2 separate regions of the Homo sapiens genome follow, and region 1 is linked to region 2. Evidence: fine-mapped expression QTL. A gene starts in region 2. The other region holds a variant in brackets. All regions are shown on one strand. Distances are between the middles of the regions.

Region 1 (5,233 bases), 560 kb before region 2:
GTCACTTACCACTCACAACCACCCTGTAGGGCGGGTGGCTATGATCACCCCCATTTTCTAAGTGAGGTTCTAAGAAATGAAATCACTGGCAGCTGGCTCACTGATTTGGGGCCAAGCCCAGGTCTTCTGAACGTAAGTCTAGTGGTTATTCTGCTATGCTGCTTGGTCACTTATGAGGCTGGTGTCTAGAGTCATTACTGAGTCTCCAAGTCCCCACTGTCTGCCCCATCCTTGACCCACACAAGTGCCCTGTTCAGTGTTCTGAGGGAAGGCGGAAAGACTCATGCTCAGGACTCAGGCTTCCCAGGCTCCTCATGCTGTTCCTAGGCTTGGTTTGACACCTCTCTTCCCCTATCCTGCCTACCCCTCCCACCCACACCCTCCTAGCCCCAGCTGACTTAGAGGCAGGGAGAGGGAGGCAAGGCCAGAAGGCTTTTGTTTTTCTACGATGGAGAGATGACTGAAATCCCGCCATCTCCCGCAGAAGACAGAGGCAGCTCTGGATTTCCTGTTGCTCTCAACACGGGCCAGATAATTGGAGACAGATTTTGGACTTGGGTTGGGAGGTGAAGTTTGAAATACAGTCGTCAGGCCTCCTGTAAGTTCGTGTGTGTGAGTGCACACTGCTTGGTTGGGGTTTTTTATTAGCTATATGTGTATCTGTGTGTGTGTGCAGATACTTGTATTGGAAATAGTGTATTGTGTCTAGTGTGTGCATGTGTGTTTGTGTGTATTGTATCTAGTGTGTTCATGTGTGTATTGTGTCTAGTGTGTGCATGTGCGTTTGTATGTATTGTGTCTAGTGTGTTCATGTGTGTTTGTGTATTGTGTCTAGTGTGTGCATGTGTGTGTATTGTGTCTAGTGTGTGCATGTGTGTTTGTATGTATTGTGTCTAGTGTGTTCATGTGTGTTTGTGTATTGTGTCTAGTGTGTGCATGTGTTTGTATATGTTGTGTCTAGTGTGTTCATGTGTGTTTGTGTATTGTCTAGTGTGTGCATGTGTGTGTGTACTGTGTCTAGTGTGTTCATGTGTGTTTGTGTATTGTCTAGTGTGTGCATGTGTGTTTGTGTATACCGTGTCTAGTGTGTGCATGTGTGTATGTATTATGTCTAGTGTGTGCATGTGTGTTTGTATTATGTCTAGTGTGTGCATGTGTGTTTGTATGTATTATGTCTAGTGTGTGCATGTGTGTTTGTATGGTGTCTAGTGTGTGCATGTGTGTTTGTATTGTGTCTAGTGTGTTCATGTGTGTTTGTATTGTGTCTAGTGTGCATGTGTGTTTGTGTGTATTGTGTCTAGTGTGTTCATGTGTGTTTGTGTATTGTGTCTAGTGTGTGCATGTGTTTGTGTGTATTGTGTCTAGTGTGTTCACGTGTTTGTATTGTCTAGTGTGTGTGTATTGTGTCTAGTGTGTTCATGTGTGTTTGTGTATTGTCTAGTGTGTGCATGTGTGTGTATTGTGTCTAGTGTGCATGTGTGTGTATTGTGTCTAGTGTGTTCATGTGTGTTTGTATGTATTGTGTCTAGTGTGTGCATGTGTTTGTGTATTGTGTCTAGTGTGTGCATGTGTGTTTGTGTGTATTGTGTCTAGTGTGTGCATGTGTTTGTGTGTATTGTGTCTAGTGTGTTCACATGTGTTTGTATTGTGTCTAGTGTGTGTATTGTGTCTAGTGTTCATGTGTGTTTGTATTGTGTCTAGTGTGTTCATGTGTGTTTGTGTATTGTGTCTAGTGTGTGCATGTGTGTTTGTGTGTATCGTGTCTACTGTGTGCATGTGTTTGTGTGTATTGTGTCTAGTGTGTTCATGTGTGTTTGTGTATTGTGTCTAGTGTGTGCATGTGTGTTTGGTACCTGTGCTCCTTGTACATCTTTAGTGTTTAAGACTCCGCGTGTATGTGTATGTGTGAGAAAGTATGTAAGTGTGTGTCTGGGGCTCTGTGAGTGGCTCCCTTGTTTTGTTTAATTTTTTTTCCTTTGTGAGATTCAGTCTGGCTTGGAGAGTCCCCACCAGTCCTTTCAGGATCTTATTACTCACGACTTGGTGATTAAATGTAATACAATAATTAAGATTTTTTTTTAAAAAGGAAGGAAGGCAGATGGCCTTCGGGGAGATAACATGAGGGGTAGAAAGCAGCCAGAGTGCCTTGAGAGCAGACAGCCAAGGGTGAAGGGGACCTGCAGGGCAGAGGGGCTCTTTTAGGAGGTACAGACAAGGCCCCAGTTTCCCCCCATCTCTCTGATGGAAAAAGGCAACACGCGCTTCCACAACGGTTTAGCTGCCTCTACCCCTGAAGGTTGGGCAGGGGAGGGGCTCCTATTGCCTTCCTGCCTGAATCTCTACCCTGGAAGAAGAATCAAGCCCCTTTCTTCTAAAGGCCTACGTGCACATTCACTAATGCGAATTTTGCTATAAATGACATGCAGACCAGTTAG[G/A]AAGTAGTCTTCTCATAACAACAACCACAGCTAGCCATGGTGTACCTGCAGCACATCAGACTCCAGCTGGGTACTTTACATGTGTTTTTGTATCTGTGTGTGTGTGTGTAAAATCACTTATAAGCTTGTTATTACCTTTTTGCAGAGGAAACTGAGGCTTATGATAGATGAGTAAGGACTTTAACCCTTCATGGTGATAGTTCATTTGTTCATCCAACAAATGTGTATTGAATACTTTTTTTTTTTTTTTTTTGAGACAGGGTCTGGCTCTGTTACCCAGGCTGGAGTACAATGATATGATCTTGACTCACTGCAGCCTCCACCTCCCAGGCTCAAACAATTCTCCTACCTCAGCCTCCTGAATAGCTGACACTACATGCGTGCGCCGCTACGCCCGGCTAATTTTTTTTTTTTTTTTTTTTTGTAGAGACGAGGTTTTGCCATGTTGCCCAGGCTGGTCTCGAACTCCTGAGCTCAAGCAATGGACTGCCTTGGCCTCCCAAAGTGCTGGGATTACAGGTGTGAGCCACTGTGCCTGGCCCCCATGTATTGAATACCTATCTGCTCAGGCACTACGCTAGATATGAGGGACACAGAGGTGAACGAGACATAGTCCCTGCCCTCACAGAATCCACTCTCTAGGGAGGGAATCGATGCTTCAAACATTGAAGTTCTCCAGCCTGGACAACATAGCGAGACCAAATCTCTAAAAAAAAATTAAAAATTAGCAGGACATGATGGTGTACACCTGCAGTCCCAGCTACTCGGGAGGCTGAGGTGGGAGGATCATTTGAGCCTGGGAGGTTGAGGCTGCAGTGAGCCATGATCGCACTACTCCAGCCTGGGCGATAGGGTGAGAGAGCAAAAGAGAGAGAGAGGAAAAAAGACAGAGGACACAGGGAGGTAGGGAGGGAAGAAGGAAGGAAGGAGGGACGGAAGGAAAGAAGGAAGGAAAGGAAGGAAGGAAAAAAGGAAGGAAGGAAAGAGGTTGAAGTTCTTCTCACTCTTTAGTTGGGGCAGACCATTCCCAGTGCCAGTGCAGCGGTGGCTGTTATGGGGCTGAGGACTTTTTGGACTGGGGCAAGATTTACTCCCCAGATTAGCTGTTCCTCATAAAGAAATTTCCAGTGAGGACTGGATAGGGAGGAGAAGGCATGGCAGACATGGAGGGGGATAGATTTGTGTTCTGGGGGCTTGAGAGTGGAGGGGAGGAGAGGACACAGCAGTGGCCTGCTTGCCCACTCATCTGCTTCGTAGCCTGGCATTGGCTGGGAGACACGGTGTCCTCAGATGGTCCAGTCCCCCTGGCAGGAGGAAGAATCACGACGGAGTTACCCATGCCCTTGCCTCTCCAGATGGGTCTCTGAGAGCCCAGAGTGGTGGGTTGGGGAGGGTAGGGTGGGGGTAGCGACCCTCCCTGCTTCTGGCGATCTGACTCAGTTCCCCAGGGCAGCTGCTACAGCACCGCTGCAGCCTTCCTGGCCTAAATCGCTTCCAGCTTGTTTAGTCGAAATCCTTGGCCCCAACATCAAAGCCCCTTTGGAGTTTCTGGGGATTGCTGTTCTTATATGGTGTTTATTTCAGAGATGGTTCTGTTGTCACTGGCTGCATGGGGTGGGGCAGGAGGGGCTTTGGAGGCCCTTGGGTTTCAGAGACACCAGGTTAGGCGGGTAGAGGGACAATTTCCATGACAACTGCCCCCAGGATACTATCTCCCCCATGCCTGCCTCTACCTGGGGCATAGGTGCACAGAAAGGGAGGCTGCCTTCTTCCCTGCCCAAGGCCCCAGAGAGGAGCTTCTATTCCCTTCAATTGTATGCCAGACATTTTAGTCTGGGCTCCCAGGGGTCAAGGCCATGCCACCCCCTGCCCTCCCATCCCAGCCCTCATCTTAGAACCTATGAGCTCACTCCAAGCAAACAGCTCTCCATCTCCAGCATCAGCTTAGCCCTCTATGCCTGGGCCAGGTCCCAGCTCCTTCACCTGCATGCCCCTCCTTCAGAAGGGCCTTTTCTTCCTCTTCTTTCACTCTGATTAGCTGGATGCCTACTTGGGCTATTGGAATTTCCATTTGGCTCTGGAATCTGCACCTTTTTGCCTCTGAGTTTGCAGGTTCCAGCAGGTCCCTTCCTTCCTGCAACTTGTTCCTCAGTGCCTAGCACAGGGGAACACACAGAGAAGAGGGGATGCTCTGTTCAAGTTGAGGCAGATGGGGCTGACAGTGAGGAGGTGCGGCTCATGGTTTGGGTGGAGGTAGAGCTCCTAGGAGTCTCCCCAGGAAAAACCGGTAGATGAAGAAGCCAACTCTAGGTCTCAGCCATTGTCTAGAACAAGAACGAATGAAGGAAAGAGACACAGGGAAAGAAGGAGGGAGAGAGAGCGAGGAAGGGATGAGGATGTGTATGTGTAACAGGGCCAGGTTACAACCTGGCTTACAAAAAGCTTACAACCATGATCTACAGGGACAGACTCCTTCTGGACTGACGTTCACTTTCCCGAACGTTCCTAGGAGTCAGAGGGGGTCTCCGGACTCCCCTCAACCTTTCTACCCTCCCCCTACCACCTCATCTGCCTCTGATTTTTACTCCTATCATCTTCCTGGGCTATGCCCTTCTTGCCCCCTTGCTTTGTCAATGTCCCCAGACAAAGGGAACTCCTGGTGTACCAGTGGCCACCTTTTTTTTTTTTTTTTGAGACAAAGTCTCTCTCTGTTGCCCAGGCTGGAGTACAATGGCGCGATCTCAGCTCACTGCAACCTCCACCTTCTGGGTTCAAGTGATTCTCCTGCCTCAGCTTCC
Region 2 (5,221 bases):
TCGCTTTGTTGTCAGGCTGGAGTGCAGTGGCGCGATCTCGGCTCATTGCAACCTCCGCCTCCCAGATTCAAGCGATTCTCCTGCCTCAGCCTCCCGGAAGTAGCTGGGACTACAGGCGGGGGCCACCACGCCCGGCTAATTTTTTGTATTTTTAGTAGAGATGGGGTTTCACCATGTTAGCCAGGATGGTCTCGATCTCCTGACCTCGTGATCCGCCCACCTCGGCCTCCCAAAGTGCTAGGATTACAGGCGTGAGCCACCGCGCCCGGCCCCCTTGGGGAAGATTCTTAACTGCTCTGGCCTTGGGTGGCCTCTTTTGTGAAATAGAGTTGATCTCTTTTTCATAAGGCAGTCCTGGGGTTTACCAGTGATGGGGCATGTTAAATGCCTGGCAAAGGGTTAGAACCCAGCTAACAGTAAGGTTGCCTGGCCCCTTGACAGAATTCTAGAATTCCACAACCTATTCGTCAGTCCACCTCTCCCCCAATAGAACACGAGACCATACAGTGGAGCCCAGTCCAGGACACTGAGGCTAGGCTCAGCAGTGCCTTCCAAATGCCCTGACTGGGGGTACCCCAGAATCCTCTGGAGTCTGAAGATGGGGTAACAATTTGGAGGTCTCTGTGATAACTCTCTGTGATAACCAAGTTATCTGCAAAATCCCTTTTTCCTCCAGGAGTGCTCTGAGGGGCAGTTCTTGCTCTCAGGAAGCCTCCTAAGGGATGAAGCCACACGGAGTGGCGAACTTTTCAGGTGGACCCGAATTCTTGGAAGCCCAGAGAAAACAAATGAAGGTGTTCATTTTCAGAACATATAGCTGTGCCCAGAGGCCCGCGTGCTTGCGGCTCCCCTTAGAGGCATCTACATTGGCCATGCCCATCACCACTGGCCCCCACCCCCGATATCTCACACTGCCCAGAGCCACCGAAGTCCCAGACTAGCCCTTTCCTGGCACATGATGCTTGGGCTTCCTAAAATGCCCCTCTTCGTGCCACTTTGCCTGAAAGCTCTTCATCCTTCAGAGCCAGCCAGGAAGTCACTTGCTCCTGACACTTGTCCATAATTCCCAGCTCCCATGCACTCGGCTCATCAGCTCCCACCAGGATTTCCCTCACTTGCCATTTAGGCTGGCTGTGGTCTGATGGCCTCTCCACAGTCCAGGAGCAACTTGAAGGCAAGAATGGCATCCCACCCCTCTTTGTACCCTCCTGTTTGCCAAGTGATATAGGGGCTGAATAAGGTTGAAGTTGTTGGGAATAAAAAGAACGAAATCCAGAGTATTCCCCGATTTTAAGAAAAAATGGGTTTTGTGTTTGTGACAGAAAGAAAAATGGCACGGGGGGGGTCACAAAGACCAGCGCTCTAGCCAGAACTGCCCCATGGTTGTCATGTGACCTTGGACAAGTCACTTATTTTCCAGTGTCTTAGAGATGCCTTATCTGTAAAATGGAGACACTCATTCCTATCGTGTCTAACTTGCCAGGCTGTGGTGAGGTCACATGGCTCTGTGCGTAAAAGGTACACAGTGCAAACGTGCTGGAATGTCAGGGATGCTATTAAGGAAGCAATAAGAAGAAAGGGTCACTGGGTGTGTGGCGAAGGAGAAGTGGAAAGGGCGCCAAGATTTTAGGCCTCAGTGACTGGTATGGAGGGTTCTCTGGGTCCTCTCAGTCCCTGTTTATGGAGGGCTGGGGGCTTGGGTCTAGAGAATTTCTCTCTGAGAAACTACGCCCCCGGGGGAATCGGCCCCCCCAGCCCTGCGCCAGAATCCCCTGCAGCAAGTTTCGGAGCAAGGCCTCCTCCATGCTTCCCTCCCAGTCTTGCCCAGCGCCCACTGATGAGGAAGGGCCTCTGCGGGTGAGACCTGCTTCCCTCTCGGATAGCCAGGGCTGATGATTTCAACTCATTAATCATTCCGAACTCTTCCCAACAAACAGCCTCATGGCTGTCCCGGACCTCCTCTGTCCCGGCTCAGGAAATGATCTCGGTCGGAAGTGAAAAGACCAAATCGGCCCCAGGAGGCCATTTTCTTCGACAGAAGCTGAGGCGTGGGGGCGTGGCCTTCCCCCGCTTCCCCCTCCACTCCCCCGCCCGCCCCCGGCCCCGGCTTTCCGATCTCGGCCCAGGGAAGAGCCTTGGTCGCGAATCACCAGTTTGCATTTGCCCCTGGGGCGGGGGCGGCTTTCTGAGACCAGGCTGGGGCTGGGACTCCGCCACCTTCAGCTAAGGGTACCGAGGTCAGTCCGGGAGTCGCGTCACCGGGACTCGAACCCGCCTCTTCGTCTTCCGAGGCCTAGTGCGAGCCTGCGGCGCTAAACGCAGTCACACTGTCCCTTTAAGGCGGCACTTTTTATTCTTCATTTGTTTACTTCTTCATGCGCTCTTCGGTCTTTACAAAATGTGCTCGCGATATCCTTCCGCAAGTGTCAGTCTCAGGCACTCACCACCCGCCTTGAAGCCATTTCTATAATCTTAAGACTCGCGAGTTAGCAGCCGTGGGCCGACGTCTCTCTTTATAGGATTTAATTCTTTTACATTTTAGGGACTACTTTTTAGGAATAAACCATTCTTGCGTTAGTTAATAAAGGTTCATAACCTTCGGAACCCCTCCGCTGAGAACAAAATACGATAATAGCCTTTATAACGCACCTTTTCATAAAAATATTCTGTGAGGACTCTCATAGGCCATCGAATCTTCTCGTATTCCTGAAACAGAATGGTACGGTCCAGAACCCGCCCCATCTTCTCTGCGATTGGCCGTCCTTCCTCAGCGAGTCGTGTGATTTTTCACCAATGGCCGCTCGCGTTTCTTTAGCGAGGTCTAAGCGATGGAAGGTGGCGGCCAGGGAGACGCCCCCTACGCGTCCTGGGATTGGCTACGTCGCACGGCGCGCGAGGGCGGCGGGCCCGAAAGATAAGAACTACGACTCCCGGCGCCCCGCAAAGGGAACTCCGTTACGCATGCGCACGGGCGGGGCGAAAAAGCTTCTATATAAAAGGGGCGCAGAGGACTGGGAGACAGCAGTTGGAAGTTGGCAGGTGGAGAGGCAGGTTGGGAGGGAAAGTCGGGGGAGGACGCGGAAGAGGAGCTGTGGGAAGGGGGAGGAGGGAGGGAGGAAAAGAGGAGGAGGCGGAGGAGAACTGAGCAGAGCAGAGCATCGAGCCAAAGGGGAGATGAGTTTGTCTGTCCTCTGCTGAGGCTACGGCCGGGCCTAGGGAACTGGGAGCTTGGGTGGAAGCGACACCCGTGGAAGTGGGAGGAGGTGGCGCCGGGACTTTAACCCCTTGTGGGCTCTGCGGCAGGGGATTTAACCCTTTGTGGATCTGGCCCCTCGGAGGCAGCGTCATCGGTAGTTTTAACCCCTTCGGGGCTGGGTTTCACGCACTGGACTTACCCTCATCACCTTGCTCACCAACTCCTTTATTGGGGTGCTCCGCTTGGAGGTTTGAGGCCCACCTCCGCCCATTACGTACTGTTCCTGCCGCTGCACCCCCTTGGACCCGCTAGCTGGCCGCACTGTGGGCGCTTAACCCTTTACTGACTTGAGCTCCCCAGATTGCAGTTGGAGTTTGCTGATAGAAGGACTAGCTAAAGGCGTCACTGCAGGAATTACAAACTGAAGAGGACTCTGTTGGACTGTTTTTTTTTTCTTTTTCTTTTTTTTAAGAAAAACCCATTTTTTTCCTTAAGGACTTACTAGCCAAAATTTCTTAAACTTCGAGGACTCTACTAGCCATGGCCGAGCCATTCTTGTCAGAATATCAACACCAGCCTCAAACTAGCAACTGTACAGGTGCTGCTGCTGTCCAGGAAGAGCTGAACCCTGAGCGCCCCCCAGGCGCGGAGGAGCGGGTGCCCGAGGAGGACAGTAGGTGGCAATCGAGAGCGTTCCCCCAGTTGGGTGGCCGTCCGGGGCCGGAGGGGGAAGGGAGCCTGGAATCCCAACCACCTCCCTTGCAGACCCAGGCCTGTCCAGAATCTAGCTGCCTGAGAGAGGGCGAGAAGGGCCAGAATGGGGACGACTCGTCCGCTGGCGGCGACTTCCCGCCGCCGGCAGAAGTGGAACCGACGCCCGAGGCCGAGCTGCTCGCCCAGCCTTGTCATGACTCCGAGGCCAGTAAGTTGGGGGCTCCTGCCGCAGGGGGCGAAGAGGAGTGGGGACAGCAGCAGAGACAGCTGGGGAAGAAAAAACATAGGAGACGCCCGTCCAAGAAGAAGCGGCATTGGAAACCGTACTACAAGCTGACCTGGGAAGAGAAGAAAAAGTTCGACGAGAAACAGAGCCTTCGAGCTTCAAGGATCCGAGCCGAGATGTTCGCCAAGGGCCAGCCGGTCGCGCCCTATAACACCACGCAGTTCCTCATGGATGATCACGACCAGGAGGAGCCGGATCTCAAAACCGGCCTGTACTCCAAGCGGGCCGCCGCCAAATCCGACGACACCAGCGATGACGACTTCATGGAAGAAGGGGGTGAGGAGGATGGGGGCAGCGATGGGATGGGAGGGGACGGCAGCGAGTTTCTGCAGCGGGACTTCTCGGAGACGTACGAGCGGTACCACACGGAGAGCCTGCAGAACATGAGCAAGCAGGAGCTCATCAAGGAGTACCTGGAACTGGAGAAGTGCCTCTCGCGCATGGAGGACGAGAACAACCGGCTGCGGCTGGAGAGCAAGCGGCTGGGTGGCGACGACGCGCGTGTGCGGGAGCTGGAGCTGGAGCTGGACCGGCTGCGCGCCGAGAACCTCCAGCTGCTGACCGAGAACGAACTGCACCGGCAGCAGGAGCGAGCGCCGCTTTCCAAGTTTGGAGACTAGACTGAAACTTTTTTGGGGGAGGGGGCAAAGGGGACTTTTTACAGTGATGGAATGTAACATTATATACATGTGTATATAAGACAGTGGACCTTTTTATGACACATAATCAGAAGAGAAATCCCCCTGGCTTTGGTTTCGTAAATTTAGCTATATGTAGCTTGCGTGCTTTCTCCTGTTCTTTTAATTATGTGAAACTGAAGAGTTGCTTTTCTTGTTTTCCTTTTTAGAAGTTTTTTTCCTTAATGTGAAAGTAATTTGACCAAGTTATAATGCATTTTTGTTTTTAACAAATCCCCTCCTTAAACGGAGCTATAAGGTGGCCAAATCTGAGAACAATTAAATTCATTTTAGTTATAATAAATTTAATATTTGTAAATGTAACATAGTTTCAGTGTGATTTCTAGA

The links. PIP is the estimated chance that this variant, and not a neighbour inherited with it, causes the effect.
Region 1: its variant is the best candidate, but not a certain one, in a credible set for the expression of HEXIM1 in whole blood (TOPMed, PIP 0.71).

Annotation. Positions count from the first base shown.
Region 1 is chr17:44,589,391-44,594,623 of GRCh38, forward strand. No RefSeq gene overlaps it. Among named protein-coding and RNA genes, the nearest start is that of FZD2, 35 kb to the left of the region's middle. The variant G/A (reference allele first, on the strand shown) is at 2,436.
Region 2 is chr17:45,145,455-45,150,675 of GRCh38, forward strand. HEXIM1 (HEXIM P-TEFb complex subunit 1) reads left to right here and starts at 3,021. Exons shown (of 1, transcript NM_006460.3): 1 at 3,021-5,221. The coding sequence starts at 3,737. The coding sequence ends at 4,816. HEXIM2-AS1 (HEXIM2 antisense RNA 1) reads right to left here. Exons shown (of 3, transcript NR_186789.1): 3 at 4,208-5,221. RefSeq lists enhancers at 1-386, 2,124-3,006, 3,410-3,459, 3,510-3,559, 3,610-3,719 and 2 more.